Regions from separate parts of the Homo sapiens genome. Here region 1 is linked to region 2. The links come from fine-mapping of genetic effects on gene expression. A gene starts in region 2. The other region holds a variant in brackets. All regions are shown on one strand. Distances are from middle to middle.

Region 1 (9,233 bases), 36 kb after region 2:
ACCTATATTCCCACCTGAGGTGGGAGGATCGCTTGAGCCCAGGAGGTCGAGGTTGCAGTGGGCCGTGATCGCGCCACTGCACTTCAGCCTGGGCGACAGAGTGAAACCCTGCTGCACAAATAAAAGAGAAAAGGGAAAAAGAGCGGAGACAGGCAGCCCCGCTTTACAGGTAGGGAAAGTGAGGCACAGAGAAGTAAAACGACCTACCCAAGGAAACCCATCTAGTAAAGGCAGGGACCGGGATCGCAGGCTCTTGGAGCTCACCAGTCCCCGCCGGGCGGTGCTTGGCCCCTCCTTCCCCTCCGGCGGGCGTGGCCCGGCCGGGCCCGCCCCCTCCCCTGCGCGCGTTCCTGGCAGCCCGGCCGGCGTTTCCTGCCTGCGTCGCTGAGCTGGCGGGCGGGCAGCCCATCTGGCGGCCCCCGCGGGGCGGCGCGGGGAGGCGGCCCAGACTTGCTGGAGCCAGGCGCCGGCCCGGGGGCCCCCCTGCCCGCCTGGAGAACCCAGGTGTGGCCGCGGCGGGGGTGGGGGGTGGTGCTTTCCTTCCCGCTCGCTCGGCCCTTCCTGACGCACCAGGGCAGGATGCAGCCTCCTCCCGTCCTCTCCTCGGCCTCCGCCTCCCGCGCCCTGGCCCGGAATGCTGGAGGGAATCCAAACGCAGGGCGGGGAGGCAGGGGCAGGCCCCTGAGGCCCCGCCCCTGATAGCCATTTGATACCACCGCTAGTCTTGCCCGTGTTTGGGGTGACTCAGCTTCCCTGCTTGTGCAAGAACAGCTGAACTCTGACCTCCTGAATGGCCGACTCTTGCCTTGCTCCTCAGGGACCCCAGACACGATCGTAGGAACCGGAGGTACTACTGCCCTAAGCCATAGCGCTTGACATTATCCATTTATTCAGCAGTTTCAAGTCGCGGCAAGCGGCGTTTGACCACTTCTGTTCCCTGCCCAGTGCTTAACTGGTACCTGGTGCCGGCCTGATGGAGGCTCTGAAGGCTTTCCCTCAGAAAGCTGGACCCGCCCTGGGAAGCAGGTCCTAACCCCCCTTCACAGTCGAGCACAAGACCGCTTCATTCACACTGCAGGAGCCAGCCCTGCTGTCAGACTGACGGTGCCAAACCCCCTTCTCCAATGCTGCCCCCAAAAGGAACCAGGGATCCATTATCCTGATCATGTCAAACGGCACCACGGTGAATACGAGTCTTGGAAGCCAGACACTCTGGGTTCACATGCCCCCTGGGCCCGCCCTTACGGTCTCTGCCTCAGTTTCCCCATCGTAAGAATGATGTAGGTACCTCAAAGTGTTGTTACAACGATTAAGTAAATCTTAAGATACATTTGAAACTTGAACACGGGTTTCAATTGTGCAGGTGCACTTAAACGTGGACTTTTTTTCTACCTCTGCCACCCCTGAGACACCAAGACCAACCCCCTCCTCTTCCTCAACACAGAGACCAGGATGAAGATCTTTATTTATGATGATCCACTTTCACTGAATAATTTTTTTTTTTTTGAGACGGAGTCTCACTCTGTCCCCCAGGCTGGAGTGCGGTGGTGCAATCTTGGCTCACTGCAACCTCCGCCTCTTGGGTTCAAGTGATTCTCCCACCTCAGCCTCCTGAGTAGCTGGGACTACAGTCGCCTGCCACCATGCCAGGCTAATTTTTGTATTTTTAGTAGAGTCGGGGTTTCACCATATTGGCCAGGCTGGTCTCGAACTCCTGACTTTGTGATCCGCCTGCCTCTCTCGGCTTACTGCAAGCTCTGCCTCCCGGGTTCAGGCCATTCTCCTGCCTCAGCCTCCCGAGTAGCTGAGACTACAGGCGCCTGCCATCATGCCCGGCTAATTTTTTGTATTTTTAGTAGAAACGGGGGTTTCACCATGTTAGCCAGGATGGTCTCGATCTCCTGACCTCCTGATCTGCCCATCTTGGCCTCCCAAAATGCTGGGATTACAGGCATGAGCCACCATGCCTGGCTCTTAGGATTTTCTTAATTACATTTTCTCTAGCTTACTCTATGGTAGACAGTGTAGTACGTATAACATACAAGATGTTTTGACTGTTTATGTTATCAGGTAAGGCTTCTGGTCAACAGCAGACTATTAGTTGTTTTGCGGGACTGAAAAGTTATACAGATTTTCGACCATGATGGGTTGGTGCCCCTAATCCCTGTGTTGTTCAAGGGTCAGTTGCACTAGCATAATGCTAGTCACGTGAAATACAGTCAGTGCACACTGGGGTCTCAGCAGGGCTGGTTTTCCCCTTGGAACCCTCTCTCTTGTCGCAGTCATGGGAGACTGAGGCACAGAAACAGAATCTAATAAAGCAGGGTAGAACTTGGGTTCTAGAGCAGTTTCCTAATAATCCACCCCAAACCAGGTGAGGCTGGCATCTAGCCCACTCGGGGCCCTGCCCAACCACCCACACCCCCTCCCCAGCATGCAGGCCCAATCCTTGCCCGGCCTGGTGCCATTTTTCCATGGGACTCTGATGGTGGCGGTTCACATCTGGAGTCTAGACTCGCAGGCTCTGCGGGCCAGGCCTACCGCCTGGGCTGGGCCACCACTGCCCGCTGTTTGCTCAGCTGAAGCTGGTTAATTGGAATTACAGTGGCCTCTGCGGTGCCGGCTGGCCGGGCGGGCCCTAGTCCGCTGCTCCGGAGGTCTGTGGAACATCTGGCTGGACCAGGACAGTCATTAGGTGGCAGGCGCTCGGCGCCACTGCCACCTCAGCCTCTGCCGGGGGCTGGTGGTGACTCAATAAGGCCTTTGTGCGCCCTGGGCCGCAGAGCCAACCATGCTATGTGCCTGGGCCGCCTGCCCCATCTGCCTCAGAGGGGCCTTGTTCCAGGACCACATGGCCTCAGAGTTGGCTGGAGTGGGTAGAGATTCCAGAAGCCCCTGAAAGGGAACCCCCCTCCCTGAAAGGAAGAAGCCTTTTGAAATTTTCTACCCCTTTTCCTTCCTATAGAACCCTGGAGCCAGTAAAATTGGGTGGCTGGGGCTCAGGGATGCCCAGCACACCAGCCAGTGACTTGGTCCCAGGGGTCTGGGGAGGAGCTGCGGTCCTTAGGAACCTGGAATTGTTTGGCTTGGCTAAGGTCAAATCGATGTCCATGGGCAAGCTGCCTCAATTCCCTCATCTGCACAGCGGAGCGAATAATAGCACATACAGCCCAAGACTCAGAAGGAAGTGAAATCCTATATCAAGGTGCTTAGTGCATGTCAATACCTAGTGAGGGTATTACAGTCATACTCCTGAGTCTCTGGTCATGATTGTCCTTTGGCCACTTCCAAACTGGAAGCCACTGTTATTTTCAGCCTTTGAACCTGAAGCTTGGGCAAGGGAGAGCCCCGGGTCTGTCAGTATGGTGGCCACCCGCTCCTGTCTGTTTCCCCACTCAGTGACCTCATACCAGGTGGGTGGATGAGGGTTGTGGCCACCGTTTGCCTGGTTTGGGGTGGTGCCCGGTCGGTCTCCTGCTGGCCGGGGCTGCTGTCTTCAGCAAACTTTAGGGAAACCCGGGCGCTGAGATTTCAGCTCTTAGGCCCCAGAAGGCCTCTAAGAATCACTAGCTCAGTCCTTCCCCACCCCAGCCTCTAGAGGTCCTGGCCCTTGTGCCATGACTGGCCCCACAGTAGTCATTTTGGGAAGAAACCCAGGAATGGGCAGAATGGGAGACAAAGCCTTGATCTTCAGGGCAACCTAGAGTCTGAGCCCTCATCAGCCGAAGCCATATGGGCACAGGGACCAGGGAGGCTGGCAGGTTCTACAGTTACTGCTTCCCTTGTGAGTCAGGTCAGCCCTGGGTACTCCCCACCACTCTCACCATGGTGAGTGGGAGACTCTCATCTGCCAACACCCTTGCTGCCCCCAAGTATTTCGAGGAAGGTGGTGAGAAAAGTGCTAGCTGGTGAGAGAGGGCTCGTGGGCCCCCTCTACTGGCTAAAAGGTGTTTTACGGGTGCAGGGCTGGCCAGGCACTGGGGTGGGCACCCTTAAGGGGCTTGCAGAAAAGATTTTGGGTGGGCAGGTGAGACCTAGAAAACCCAGGGCAAGACACTGGGTGCTTAAACAGAGAATCTTCCAGGAGCACAGTGGCCCGCCCTGGCCATGGGATGAGTTTTTAATGTGAGGCAAAATCAGTCCACAATACAAAATCTAAAAATCACACCCACTTTTCCCACCTGGCTCCCGGGGAGGGGGGAAGCTGGGGGTTTCTTTTGCCTGCAGGGTGTGGGGAGGAGCAGAGGAGGGCCAAGAAAGGGAGAAGGAAACAGAGGCCACAGAGGCCTGGCTGGAGGTATCCTGCTGCCCCCTGCCCTGTCCTGGAGCTGCCCTTGGCCTCCTGTGCCCTCTACCGGTGCACGCCTGTGTGGGCCCAGCCCCCATCTGTCTGGTCTGGCCCTGAGAGGCTCGGGCACCAGCTGCATCATTTCTCTTTCTTCTCCAGCCCCTTCGATGCTGATGCCTCTGTTCCCTCTTTGGATTCTGTCACTGCCGCTGGATCCTTAGGATTTGACTCCTCATAACTGACCAAAAAAAAAAAA[A/C]CAACAATAAAAATTCATTTAGAGGAGAGGGTGAGCAGAACCTTGGTTGTCCCCTTCCCCCACCCCCATCCTAGGAAAGCGCCTGGTCACATGCAGAGCGTCAGCCCTGTGTCCACTGCCCAGCACCTAACAGCGCCTGGCCCCAGCCCTACCACATGCCCTCCTCAGGCAGGCTGCTCTGCTTTCTCTGAGCCTGGGGGTACCAGGAGGCAGCAAGGGCAGCAGCCAATGGAAGAGAGGTTGGGCCTGGGCTTGTGTGGGCTGATTTCAAGCTTCCTGAACCTTCTGCTGTAGCGTGGAAAAAGGGGTGGCCATGACAAGGCTACAAGAGATGGAGATAGGCTGCCTCCCAGGGCACACAGCATGAATCAAACAGCTCAGCCCCAGAGGTGAGGGCACTGCTGTACTGGCAAGCGGCAAGGTGCTGCTCTGAAGACAGACACCCTGGCTTAGCTTCTTCTATGGGCTTCATTTTTCAAGCAACTGAGTTCATGCCAAAGATAATACAAATCTTTCCTCACCAGATAAACCCCGTGAGGCAGGAATGTGCCCACTTACAGATGAAGAAAGTAACTTGCCTAAGGTTATACATATACCTTGAATGGTAACAGTATCTACTACTGCATGACAAGGGCCATTTCCATCCACTATGATGTGGGCCCCGCATTACTGGTGAGGGCAGGAAGCTTCGGGGTTGTCCTGCTTCCCAGCCCTATGGCTCGGTGCAACCACTGCCTGGTGGTTGTGGAGGAGCTGCTCTTGCGGCCTACTCCTGGCAATGGTCCCTGCCCTATGCACTGGAGCTGCAGTGTCTGCCCTACCTTGGGCCCCGGGGCAGTAGGGGGAAGCGGGCAGGTGGGCACCCGCTGGGCATTACATGGCGCTGGGATTCTGCGGGCGCCGGCGGCGAGGGCCAGCTAGCTTCTGCTGCATGGAGTCGGCCAGGCTGGCTGGGGAGCCCGAGACTGTGGGGAAGTGGGTGAGCCTCGGGGTATGAGGCAGGATTTCCGCCGAGGACTCGTAGCTGTGTGAGAGAGAGAGAAGAGACAGAAAAAAAGAGATGGATAGGGAAAGACTAAGGGAGGACAGAGACTTCCTTTCCAAGGAGCAGAGAGCAGAACTGTCTTGTTTTTACCTATTTTTGCACTTCCAGATTTTATGGAAAGAAGCTGATATTATTTGGAGAATGAAAAAAGAAAGATGCACCTAGACAAAGGCACATCAGGCCACTGTGCAGAAGAACAAGCATGCTCTAGAAGTGTATGTGCTGCTGTGGAAACACCTCTAAGAAATACCGTAGAAACCCAATGTGCAGAATGCTCCAAGAATGCCACCGTCTGTGCAAGAAAAAGTATACACACATCAGTGCACAGGTGTCTGAATGTCTGTGTAACACTGCTGGCCTCTGTGGGGTAGCTGGAGCATGAGGGTGCTCTCTCTGTTACAGCTTTGGAATTTTTAACTATGTGAATGTGGTACCAATATAAAAATAAGTAAATCAATAAAAAAAGGAGGAGAATAGAAGGGAAAAGTAAAAAGGTGGAGAATTGGGAGAGAAATGGGGAGAAAGGAGGGAGAGAGAGAGAGAGAGAGATCACTTGCTTTTTACCCCAATCTAAGAATGTCCAGGGTGGGAGTGGAGGGCAAACAGTGGGGGCAGGGTACCTGTATGGCAGAGCATTTAGCACCAAGCAGGTAAAGGCCAGGGGCACCCTCTGCCTTGTGTATTCAGAGCTTTGCCTGATGAGGGCACAATAGCATTGGGTGGTTACCCCAAGGGGAGGGGCAGGGAAACCTGGGCTGGATGGGAAGCAGAGGGAGGGTGAAGGATGGGTGCTAAGCTCAGGGATCGGGTGCCATGCCTGCTCCCAAAGCTCCCTGAGACCTGTCCCCAAGTTCACCCCTAGCCCCCACTTGCCTCAGACCACAGAGCTTTGCTGGGCGAGGCAATGTGGGCAGGCAGGCGGGGGGCTGGGGATTCTAGACAGGACAGGGAGGGCAGAGGCAGGTCCGGGGGAGGGGTGAGTCACAGGCTCCCCTGCGGGGAGCCAGGTGCACAGGAGGCCCTGGCAAGCGCTCTAGGGACAGCTTGGAGGCCAGGCAGGTGGAACTGGGCGGAAGGCACCCGAGTAGGCAGCTTTAATCGCAACTGACAGCTATTTCTAGGTCCCTGGCAGGCAGGGTCGGCAGTGCTGGGGGCAGACACCTGTTGGAGTCACGCAGGCCTTGCGGTATGGGTGGGGCTGTGTGCAGGGTGTGGTAGGTGTGGATATGGCCCTGGGGAAGGGGTATCTGTGTGAGATACAGATATAGAGAAAGCAGTGAGCTGTGGGTTAAAGCCACAGAGGTGAATGAACAGGGACTGACACCTGCCTTCTACTCGGGGCACTTTCTACCACACTAGGGCATCCCACACGCCCCCTGTTCTATTACTCACATGTGAAAACTGAGGCCATGGGAGGGGAAGACATGCCTGAAGTCACCTGGGGGCAGAGTCACCTAGGACTTCTGACAGTAGGCAGAGAAAAATCCACAACAGCTATTCTTAAGATCCAGCTAACATTTGGATGGGGGATGCCTAGAGGGCTCTGATGCCTTGCGCTCCCCTGGCTCCTGGCCCAGGGTAAGGTTCCCACTGGTGTCCACAGGCCAGGTACCCATGTACTGCTGAAAAAGGCAAGGGGTGGGGCTGGTGGCAGGAACAATGTTCCCCTGGAGAGGTGTAAAGATACCCCCAGCAGGTTCCACTGACTGCCAGCAGGCACACTGGTGCCCATGAGGACATCTGCCCCCCACTCTGCCTTACCTGAACATCTCTGTCACTTCTCCCTTGGCCAGCGCCACCAGGACAGGAAAACCGATGCAGGCGGGGACCAGGTATAGGAGGGCAGGCTATGAGAGGACACAGGCTGGTGAAGCCATGCTGGGCACGGCACTGCCTCAGGGCCGTGCCCAGCACCCCAAACCCCTTCTGGGCTGGACTGAAGGACAGTGACTGGTCCAGGACCATAGCAAGTCAGTGGCTGGGCCTGAACCCAGGGCTCCTAACTCCCAGACAAGGGTTGCTCCTCCCGAGAGGGAATGCAAGAAAACTAAGAAACTCAAGTAGGCAGGGCTTCAAGGGTTCCCAGGGGTTTGGCTGGCAGCATCTGAATCACCTAGGTCACCAGGTTCAAAAAGCAACTTCCTGGTTTGGTCCTACTCCCAGAGACTCTGCTTCCTGAGGTCTGGGGCTCACACCTGCATTTTAGCAAATGCTCCAGGAGATGCTATTATAGTGATGATGACACCACAGCTGCTATGTAATAACTACTTGTTGCAGCCTGTATTAAGGTGACCTAGCTGGTCACTGGCTCCCCCAGGATTCACACCCAAGCAATTTGGCATGTCTGTGCTGAGACTCCTGGTAAAGCTGGGTTTGGAGAAAAGGACGGTTATACTAAGACCCTGTTCATGAACATCTACTGTGCAGGCACTGAGCTTAGCCTTCCCAGGAAGTCAGCCCACTGCCACATCCCATGATGGTTATCCTTTTGCAGAGGAGGAAGACCAATGCTTCACAAGGAGAGGGAAAATAGCCCAGGACTCAGAGACCCAAATCTTTTTTTTTTTTTTTTTTTGAGACAGAGTCTCTGACTCTTGTTGCCCAGGCTGGAGTGCAATGGTGCAATCTTGGCTCACTGCAACCTCCGCCTCCAGGGTTCAAGCGATTCTCCTGCCTCAGCCTCCTGAGTAGCTGGGACTACAGGTGCCTGCCACCACGCCTGGCTAATTTTTGTATTTTTACTAGAGATGGGGTTTCACCACGTTCGCCATGGTGGTCTCGAACTCCTGACCTCAGGTGATCCACCTGCCTCGGCCTCCCAAATTGCTGGGATTATAGGCCTGAGGCACCACGCCCAGCCCAAAGAGTTTCTTTCTTTTTTTTTTTTTTTTGAGATGGAGTCTGGCTCTGTCACCCAGGCTGGAGTGCAGTGGTGTGATCTTGGCTCACTGCAAGCTCTGCCTCCCAGGTTCACACCATTCTTCTGCCTTAGCCTCCGGAGTAGCTGGGACTACAGGTGCCTGCCACCATGCCCGGCTAATTTTTTTGTATTTTTAGTAGAGACAGGGTTTCACCGTGTTGGCCAGGATGGTCTCGATCTCTTGACCTTGTGATCTGCCTGCCTTGGCCTCCCAAAGTGCTGGGATTACAAGCGTGAGACACCGCGCCTGGCCGAGTTTCTTTTCTTTTCTTTTTTTTTTTTTTTGTGATTTTGAGATAGAGTCTTGCTCTGTCTCCCAGACTGGAGTGCAATGGTGCGATCTTGGCTCATTGCAACCTCCGCCTCCTGAGTAACTGGGATTACAGGCATGCGCCACCATGCCCGGCTAATATTTGTATTTTTCAGTAGAGATGCGGTTTCACCATGTTGGCCAGGCTGGTGCACTTGAGTTCTTTCACATGGAGTCAGGTCCCTTGCTACGTGCTCTGTAAGTCCCTCTAATTTCCCTCACAGCATTCCTCAGCAATTTTTTTTTTTTTGAGACAGGGTCTCACTTTGTCTCCCAGACGGAAGTGCAGTGATATGAACATGGCTCACTGTAGCCTTGACCTCCTGGGCTCAAGTGATCCTCTCGCCTCAGTCCTACAAGTTGCTGGGCCTACAGGTGTGCGCCTCCATGCCTGGCTAATTTTTGTATTTTTTG
Region 2 (9,233 bases):
AACATGAGGCCCCTCATAAACCTGATTTAGACAAGTCTGATTTCTGGAAAGTCCTCTAAGGTAATGTGCAATGTGGCCTTGGGTGGGTCACCTCACCTCTTTGATGCCTCCGTTTTCTCATCTGAAAAGTGAACACAGGCCGGGCACGGTGGCTTACATCTGTAATCCCAGCTCTTCGGGAAGCTGAGGTGGGCAGATCCCTTCAGGTCAAGAGTTCGAGACTAGCCTGGCCAACATGGTGAAAACCCTTTTCTACAAAAAAAATACAAAAATTAGCTGGGCATGGTGGCACGTGCCTGTAATCCCAGCTACTCGGGAGGCTGAGGCAGGAGGATCACTTGAACCTGGGAGGTGGAGGTTGCAGTGAGCCAAGATGGTGCCACCGCACCCCAGCCTGGGCAATAGAGGGAGACTCTGTCTCAAAAAAACCAAAAAAGTGAATATACCAGTAGGCCCACACCTGGTAGGGCTGTTGAGACAATCCGCTCAAAACACTTTATTGCAATATGCACTAAGTATCTACCATGAGCCTGTGCTATGCTTTTTAGGTGCATTGGTTCAATTAATCCTTGAAGCCCAGGTTCTGAAGCCCGTTTTCCAAAAAAGAAGAGGCTCTGACAGGTGAAGTGATGAGCATCAAGGTTGATTCTGGGCTTGTGTTCTACCTGCCTCCCTACTAAAATGTTAGCCTATTACTCTTGTTGTAGTGGTGGTGGTTGCTCTTATTAAAATGAGCATATGATGATAGCACTGGCCTCGTTAACAAGTTCTGACGATTAAATGAATTGATATTGTAAAGAGTTTAGCATGGTGCCCAGCACACAATAAGCTCTCTGTATTTCTTAAATAAAATTAACAGTACAGCCCCGGAAAGGCAGAGTCCAGTGCCCAAGAAACTTGGTCCTCGGGTTTCTCGGCATCTTCCACCCCAGCTCCTGGCTTCGTCCTGTCCAGGAGGGGTTAAGGAGTTAATGATTTCCAAAGGAGCAGGGTTTTGTGTGTTACATGCACACACACCGGTGGCCTCTGTCCCCCCTCCCTCTGCGAGGCCCGGAGCCTCTTATGCAAGCCGCCGGCGCCCGCCGGTTCCCAGGCCCGGCTGCAGCTGGGGGCGGAGGGGCAGGGCGGGGGCGGCGCGCTGTTTGTCTAGCGCGGCTGTGCCAAAGGCTGCGGGCCCCAGACAGCCAGGCGCCTCCGTACACCTGGGGATGCTCAGGTTAAATAGCTCCGCATTCCTCGGGCCCAGCTGATGGAAACGCTCCCAGGCCGCCGCGGAGCCGGCCTCCAGATGGGCTGGGTCTGGGCCAAAGGGGAACAGAGGGAAACGTGGAATCCAGAGTGTGCCTGAATGGCGGGGGAGGTGGCCCAGGCCCCCGCCGCAGCCCCTTCCTCCCCTGGAAAAAGGCCCTGCATGTCGGAGTACGCGAGGGGGAACCCGCTCAGACCCCGTGGGTGGGCTTGCAGGCGGGGGCCCACACGTGAGAGTGCGTGCGTGCACACGTGTGCCTCCGAGGACACTCCAAGGACTCACAGGCGACAATAATAATTTATAACTATGAAACATTCTGTGCCAAGCACTGTGCTAAACGTTTTACACACTTACTTTATTTCATTTATTCTGTACTACATTCCGTGAGGTTAGTACTGTAATACAGCAGCCGGTGGGGAGGAGGTAGCAAAGAACATAATTCGCCTGCAAGTACTGGGTTCTTCGATAAAATCCATAAACTGTGGAGGGGGTGTACCTGGCTTAATGTTAGTGCTCAAATCATAATCTTTCATTTGATTTTTTGTTCATCCCCTCTCTGAGCTTGTTCCTTCTGCTGTAAAACTGGGATCACAGTCTTGCCTTTAGCCCCACAGGGATCCATGAAATCGTTTTTGTAAAGGGTTCAGTTGAGCAGAGCCAGGCTTCTGGTGCTAAGGGCTATTGATTTTATTCTATTGTTTATTGACAAAATATATTAATAGCCCTTACCTGTCTGGGACAAGTTCTTTGTCATTCCTGGGACTCAGTTTCTCCATATGTAATACAGGGGGGTTTACCTGGCAGCAATCCTTGAGGGTTGGTGCCCCCAGGACCTAACGATAGCCCAGGGAGTTGCCACGTGAACTTTTGAGGAAGGGTTTGCCCAAACACAGCTGTCCCCACCTTCACTCCAGACCCGCAGAGGCCCAGGAATGCCAACCAATCTATAGAACAGTTATACACACAGAAACCCACAGTGTGGTTCTGTGGCCCCCAGACACACAAACCCATCCATCATGCCAGACCCATGCAGAGATGCCTACAATGCATTTAGGCAGAACACACAAGCCCAAACAGCTGGAGGTTCCACACTTATCTGCAGAACACATGTGCTCTCATTTGCCCTTCTGCACACACCCCCAAGCATACTCCTACTTACACCCCCTCCCCCAAGCCTATATGTGAACAGTTGGCCCATCCCCACTGTGGGAGTAGTGGGGGAAGATCAGCTTACTCCTGTTACATACACAGGCGTAGACACTCATACATGCTCCCCTGAGTAGAAATCCACATACATGTCCAGGAAGATTCTTAGACCCTTGCCAATGACATATTTTTCCTGCTCAGGAGCTGGGTAATGAGACTCGTCCACTCCTCAGATCCTACGCAGGAGCCCCGGGGTTGGTGGGGGAGATTTGTTTGAACTGCCGACAGAGCCAGGCCAGAGTGAGGAGGCCGAGTCTGGACCCAGAGCAGGTGTCTCGGCAGCTGTGCCCAGCCTGGCCCTGCCAACTTGCTCACCCACTTGGATGAGCCAGGAGCCCCAGGGCTGCCTGCTGGAACCCAGAGGTAGGCTGTTGGGGGAGGCACCTCCAACTGGGGAATGGGGTGATAGAATCACTGCCTCTCACAAGCTATGGCCCTAAGCAAGTCCCTTTCCACTGGGTCTCACTTTATCCACATCTTGGCAAGGAAGTGGGTGGTCCAGCGGCCAGGTTCTCCAACTTAAATGGCTTGCTCAATACTCCCAATACAGAGGGGGCCCTGGCAGGTTCATCTGCATTTTAACAACCTCCCCAGGTGATCTAGATGGCCCAATGATCACTGTGAGAAACCCCAGAGGTCTGGAGTATTTAGTTTTATAACACTGGGGAGCAGGGAAATGGGCAGGGATGGTGGGGGAAGAATAGACTTTAAAGACACCGGAAACACTCATTCAGGCCGGTAAGAGCAACAATCCAGATGTAGCCCTCCAATTCTCCTCCCAGAACCAGCTGTGAAGAGGGTCAGGGGTCAACCCCCAGCCCAGGCCCCTCCCCTCAACCCAAGAAGTCACTACAACTTTACCACCATCTAAATTATTTGTTTAATAACAAAAAAACAGCCCCACAGAACTATTGTAAAACAATATTTTCAGTCGGTGATCATTGTAATATACAATACAAAGCAATTTCCTCAGAAATCTGAGAAGCACCAAACGTGACCATTTTTTAAAATGTCTGCTTTTCAAAAAATAGAAACACACGAGTGGAATCCCACCCCCTAAAGTCTCTGGTGACTAGTAGGTGTGCAGAGAGGAGCGCCCTCTCCTCGCCAGTGCCTCAGCCTCAGCCCCAGGCTGGATGCAGTTAAGGGCGCAGTGGCCGCCGATCGGTCTTGTTCTCCCTCAGATCCGGCGAGGCGCGTTGGGGGAGACCCACAGAGCACGTAATTCCTCTTGCCCCCTGGATGGCTGGGGTCCGCCGGTCCCTGGGGGAGGCGCTTCAGCGACACAAGATGCGATCGTCCGCAGGAACGCATGCCGCCTGTGAAAACGAGAAGAAATGAGACCGGCGGGTTGGAAGGGACGCCGCTCCGAGCGCAGCGAACGCCCCCTTCCCCAGGAAGCACGACGGGGGAGCGCTTTTTCCAGGCTCCTTAGGCACCCCCGCATAGCCAGGTACCCGCAAGGATGGGACGGAAGTGGTGCAAGCGCCCACGCCCTCTCTGGCCTCCGTTTCCCCGTCGGTATAAGGATGATCTAGTGGTCGGATCTGGATCTCACCTCGGCCGTCAGGGCGCTGATCTCGCCGTTGAGGGTGCTGAGCGGAGCCCGGACCGGCAGCCCTCGGCCCCCGGGGGTTCCAACTTCGGATTCCGAGTTCAGCTCCAACTGAAGGTCCCTGATGTAGTCGATGACGTGCTGGAGAATCTCCACCTTGCTCACCTTGCGGTTCTGGGGCAGGGTGGGCACCAGCTCCTTGAGGCGTGAGTAACAGCCGTTCATGTCGTAGAGCAGCACGTTTACCTGCTGCTCGTCCAGCAGGGCAGGCAGGCGCGCCCCGGCGCCCCCGGCGCAGCGCGAGATGGCCACGCTCTGCTCAGACAGACAGCGCACCACCTCGCCCGCACCGCTCGCTGTCTTGCCGGCCTTCAGCGCGCAGCTGGGGCCCGCGGCGGCGGTGGCGGTGCTGCCACTGGCGACTTTCATGATTCTTGGCGACTGGCTGAAACAGAATGGGCAAAGCGAAAAAAATGAGGTGGAAGCCCGAAGCAGATACGGAAAATGGAACAGTTAAGAACGTGGAATGAGAGTGCGGAGCCACAGCTTGTCTTTTATAAACACGCCACGGCCCCCGGAGGGGCGGGCTCAGAACGTTCAAAAGCAGCCAATGGGCGGCATGGGGGCGTGACCCGCGCTCCTAGGTCCAGCCTCCTGCTCGTCTAGTGCCTGCTCGCAGTGTGGAAAGACGACCCGGGTTTCAGAACAGCAAGGGTGGGTCGGTGGCAGGGCACCGGGCAGGGCAGCGGGTAGAGGCGAGGGCCGCACTGGGCTCCTCTGGAAGGAGGCAAGGAAGCTAAGCAGGCATTGCCTTATAATGAAAAGACCTCAGGAATCAGTTTTTCCCATATTCACTTTCTCACTTCTCCAGCTCCATTTCACAGATGAGAGAAATTGAGGCCCGAACGGAGAAGCGGCTGGCTCTGGATAGCCCAGAGAGCCTGGGTTTCCGGACCCTCTTGGAAGATGCTTCTCGGACCCTGATCTACAAATATCAGGACCGAAATTTAAAGCGGGCGCTCCTTTACATCTGCTCCCCTGGGCTTTCTCAATTCCTAAATAATGTTGCTGTTCGTGTTCCTGAGACCCGGAGGGCCTACCCAGATCCCTCCCGGGTGGGAGCAATTAATTCGGGAAAGTCTAGTAAGTTTGGGGCTGGGTGGCTGGGAAGTGAACTAGATAGAGCGCAGTGGAGTGAGGCTGCATTCGATTCCACCTTGAATTTGCAGCTCCTTGCAAAAATTTCCTGAACCTGCAACAGTTCGTGATTTTTTAATGTTTTTTCCCATTTTTGGCTGCTTTTTAAATTTTCTTCTCAAAGACCTCAGAGCAGGGTCTCCCTCCCACGGCGCGGCAGCTGCGGAGCTACAGTCTCCCCCCTCCCTTCCCGGGCCGGTCTGTGTCAGCGTCTGAACCAGCGGCTCAGACCGTTAGACGCCAGGCCTGTGACGTCACCCATTCATAAAACCCGGACGGACTGTCAGGCTGGCGCCGCGCGGGCGGTCGCCATGGAGACGACAAACTGGTCTAGCTAGTTCCCGTGCTCCCCCCAGCCCGTCACCTGCAGACCCCGGGCGGGAGGCCTGGGAATGCGTTTCTTGCGGGCGCGGTCGCTGAGCAAGGGTCACCTTACCTCCCCGCCCCACACCTGCGAGTCTCCCAACCCAGACCCACAGCTTGGGCCGCTTGGGGTTTCTTCACCGCTCCCCCCACCTCTCCGCCCCAGCTACCCCTTCCAGCGTGGGGAAAAAGGCCTGAGTTCTCTTTCCAGCTCTGCAGCTGAGTGAATTCAGGCGGGTCGCATGCCCTCTCTGAGCCCTAATATTTAATATCTGCTTGGTGTTTAAATAATAATCACAAACGTGACCATTATTAATTTCTTACTTTGTACAGCGGGCACTGTATGAAGAGTTTGTCTTGATCATCTTTTTTCATTTATTTCTTATTTTAAAAAATGAAGGGCTGCGCGGTGGCTCACGCCTGTAATCCCAACAATTTGGAAGGCCGAGGCGGGTGGATTGCCTGAGGTCAGGAGTTCGAGACCAGCCTGACCAATATGGTGAAACCCCATCTCTACTAAAAATACAAAAATTAGCCGGGCATGGTAGCGTTCGCCTGTAATCCCAGCTACTCGGGAGGCTGAGACAGGAGAATTGCTTGAACCTGGGAGGCGGAGGTTGCAGTGAGCCGAGATCGCACCACTGCACTCAAGCCTGGCGACAGAGTGAGACTCGTCTCAAAAAAAAAAAAAAAAAAAAGGATACAGGGGGCCGGGCGCAGTGGCTCACGCCTGTAATCCCAGCACTTTGGGAGGCCGTGGTGGGCAGATCACGAGGTCAGGAGTTCGAGACCAGCCTGACCAACATGGTGAAATCCCGTCTCTACTAAAAATGAAAAATTAGCCAGGTGTGGTGGCGCGCACCTGTAATACCCCAGCTACTCAGGAGGCTGAGGCAGGAGACTCGCTGGAACCCAGGAGGCGGAGGTTGTAGTGAGCCGAGATTATGCCACTGCACTCCAGCCTGGGCGACAGAGTGGGACTCTGTTTCAAAATAAAATAATAATGATACAGGGTCTTACTCTGTCACCCGGCTTGATCAACTTCTGTAGTCTTTTTCACAACTCTAAAGAAAGGAGCTCTTTGGTTTCTTTATACAAAGGAAACTGAGGCTCCACACGACGCCTAAGTCATAACCATAGTTGTGTTATTATAAGGAGGGTACAGTGTTGTAATGCAACCGCTTCCTGCTGAGAGCAGGCAGTCTGACTGCAGAGTCCTGGACATGCCACAGGTGGGGAAACCGAAGCTCAGATTAGTCACCCAAAGCCACACAACATTAGCAGGGGTAAAAATCTGTGCTCACCAGTGGAGGGTGATATTATGGTCCCTCCCTGCTCCGCTCCACCGCACTACCCCGCAGCAATTAATTCACTGAGTTATCAGCAGGTTCCGTTTTCCCACAGAAGTTCGGGGGATGAGGGAAAAGTAAAGGAGCCTTCTGCCTCCACATCAGGAAACCAGGAAAACCAAACCAATCAGTGAGACCAGCTTCAAAAGAGAGAGACATCATCAATTAATTAGCCAGACTCCTCATCCCCTTACCACACACACCAAAACTCTCTAAACTCCCTACGCCTTGTTTAGCAATCCTAAATTAATGATGGGAGGGAATAGTTTGCTGCTCAAAAGAATTGCCAAATAATTGGAAGAACAACAGTCAACCAGAGGAAATTAGAGTATTAATTCATCACCAAGTGTTTATTTTTGTTTATTTTTGAGGCAGAGTCTCGCTCTGTTGCCCAGACTGGAGTGCAGTGGCGCGATCTCAGCTCACTGCAACCACCACCTCCTGAGTTCAAGTCATTCTCCTGCCTCAGGCTGGGATTACAGGCACCCACCACCACGCCCATCTAATTTTTGTATTTTTAGTGGAGACGGGGTTTTGCCATGTTGCCTAGGGTGGTCTCAAACTCCTGACCTCAGGTGATCCGCCCGCCTTGGCCTCCCAAAGTGCTGGGATTACAGGCATGAGCCACCGTGCCTGGCCATCACCAACTATTTATTTATTTTTTTTTGAGATAGAGTCTCAGACTGTCACCCAGGCTGGAGTGCAATAGCACAGTCTTGGTTCACTGCAACCTCCGCCTCCTGGGTTCAAGCGATTCTTCTGCCTCAGCCTCCCAAGTAGCTGGGATTACAGGTGCCCGCCACCACACCAGGCTAAATTTTTTGTCTTTTTAGTAGAGACGGGGTTTCACTATGTTGGCCAGGCTGGTCTCAAACTCCTGACCTTGTGATCTCTCCACCTCAGACTCCCAAAGTACTGGGATTACAGGCGTGAGCCACAGTGCCTGGCCTTCAACTGTGAATTAATTGATCCAGCAATTCTGTTTACTGCAATGAATTCCAGAGAAACCAGCTTGGCCAACATAGCAAAACCCAGTCTCTACTAAAAATACAAAAATTAGCCAGGTGTGGTGGTGGGCGCCTGTAGTCCCAAGTACCTGGGAGGCTGAGGCAGGAGAATCATTTGAACCCAGGAGGTGGAGGTTGCAGAGAGCCGAGACCAAGCCACTGCACTCCAGCCTGGGCGACAGAGTGAGATTCTGATTCAAAAAAATAAAAATAAGAGAGAAAATTATGCTGTAGAAATTAATTCAGGGCCAGGCGCAGTGGCTCACGCCTGTAATCCCAGCAGTTTGTAAGGCCAAGCCAGGTGGATAACCTGAGGTCAGGAGTTCGAGATCAATCTGGCCAACATGGTGAAACCTCATCTCTACTAAAAATAGAAAAATTAGCAGGGCGTGGTGGTGCACACCTGTAATCCCAGCTACTTGGGAGGCTAAGGCAAGAGAATTTCATGAACCCAAGAAGTGGAGATTGCAGTGAGCCAAGATGCCACCACGGCATTCCAGCCTGGGTGACAAAGCAAGACCCTGTCTCAAAATATAAATACATAAAATAAATAAAATGACATAGTATTTGTATAAAACCTATGCATATCCTTCTATCCACTTTTTTTTTTTTTTGAGACGGAATCTCGCTCTGTCACCCAGGCTAGAGTGCAATGGCACGATCTCCGCTCACTGCAACCTCTACCTCCCAGATTCAAGCAATTCTCCTGCCTCAGCCTCGCGAGTAGCTGGGATTACAGGTGCCCACCACCACACCTGGCTAATTTTTGTATTTTTAGTAGAGATGGGATTTCGCCACATTAGCCAGGCTGGTCTCGAACTCCTGACCTCAGGTTATCCGCCCTTTTCCACTTCCCAAAAATGCTACACTTGCAGGCGTGAGTCACCGCGCCCGGTCTTTTTTTGTTTTTGTTTTTTGTTTTTTGAGACACAGTCTCGCTCTGTCCCCAAGGCTGGAGTGCAATGGCACGGTCTCGGCTCACTGCAACCTCCGCCTCCCGGGTTCATGACATTCTCCTGCCTCAGCCTCCTGAGTAGCTGGGACTACAGGTGCCCGCCACCACGCCTGGCTAATGTTTTTCTTTTCTTCTTTTTTTTTTTTTTGAGATGCAGTCTCGCTCTGTCGCCCAGGCTGGAGTGCAGTGGTACGATCTCAGCTCACTGCAAGCTCTGCCTCCTGGGTTCACGCCATTCTCCTGCCTCAGCCTCCCGAGTAGCTGGGACTACAGGCACGCGCCACCACGCCCGGCTAATTTTTTGTATTTTTAGTAGAGACAGGGTTTCACCGTGTTAGCTAGGATGGTCTCG

Evidence for each region.
Region 1: its variant is fine-mapped to the expression of ID1 in whole blood (TOPMed, PIP above 0.99).

Annotation. Positions count from the first base shown.
Region 1 is chr20:31,564,413-31,573,645 of GRCh38, reverse strand. HM13 (histocompatibility minor 13) reads right to left here. Exons shown (of 13, transcript NM_178581.3): 11 at 7,351-7,436; 12 at 5,422-5,568; 13 at 4,103-4,526. The coding sequence ends at 4,427. HM13-AS1 (HM13 antisense RNA 1) reads left to right here and starts at 383. Exons shown (of 3, transcript NR_046853.2): 1 at 383-504; 2 at 723-847; 3 at 5,698-6,059. LOC107985416 (a long non-coding RNA gene) reads right to left here and starts at 636. Exons shown (of 3, transcript XR_005647051.2): 1 at 208-636. RefSeq lists silencers at 104-683, 3,746-4,040 and enhancers at 485-1,026, 6,694-6,833, 6,107-6,982, 6,983-7,858. The variant A/C (reference allele first, on the strand shown) is at 4,545.
Region 2 is chr20:31,600,594-31,609,826 of GRCh38, reverse strand. ID1 (inhibitor of DNA binding 1) reads right to left here and starts at 4,538. Exons shown (of 2, transcript NM_002165.4): 1 at 4,014-4,538; 2 at 3,317-3,774. The coding sequence starts at 4,439. The coding sequence ends at 3,733. MIR3193 (microRNA 3193) reads right to left here and starts at 2,641; the gene lies at 2,587-2,641. LOC105372588 (a long non-coding RNA gene) reads left to right here and starts at 4,632. Exons shown (of 2, transcript XR_936669.2): 1 at 4,632-4,724; 2 at 4,882-5,136. RefSeq lists a cis regulatory region at 850-1,425, silencers at 2,487-2,781, 6,667-6,961 and enhancers at 2,806-3,384, 3,431-4,100, 4,101-4,771, 5,161-5,340, 5,076-5,914 and 1 more.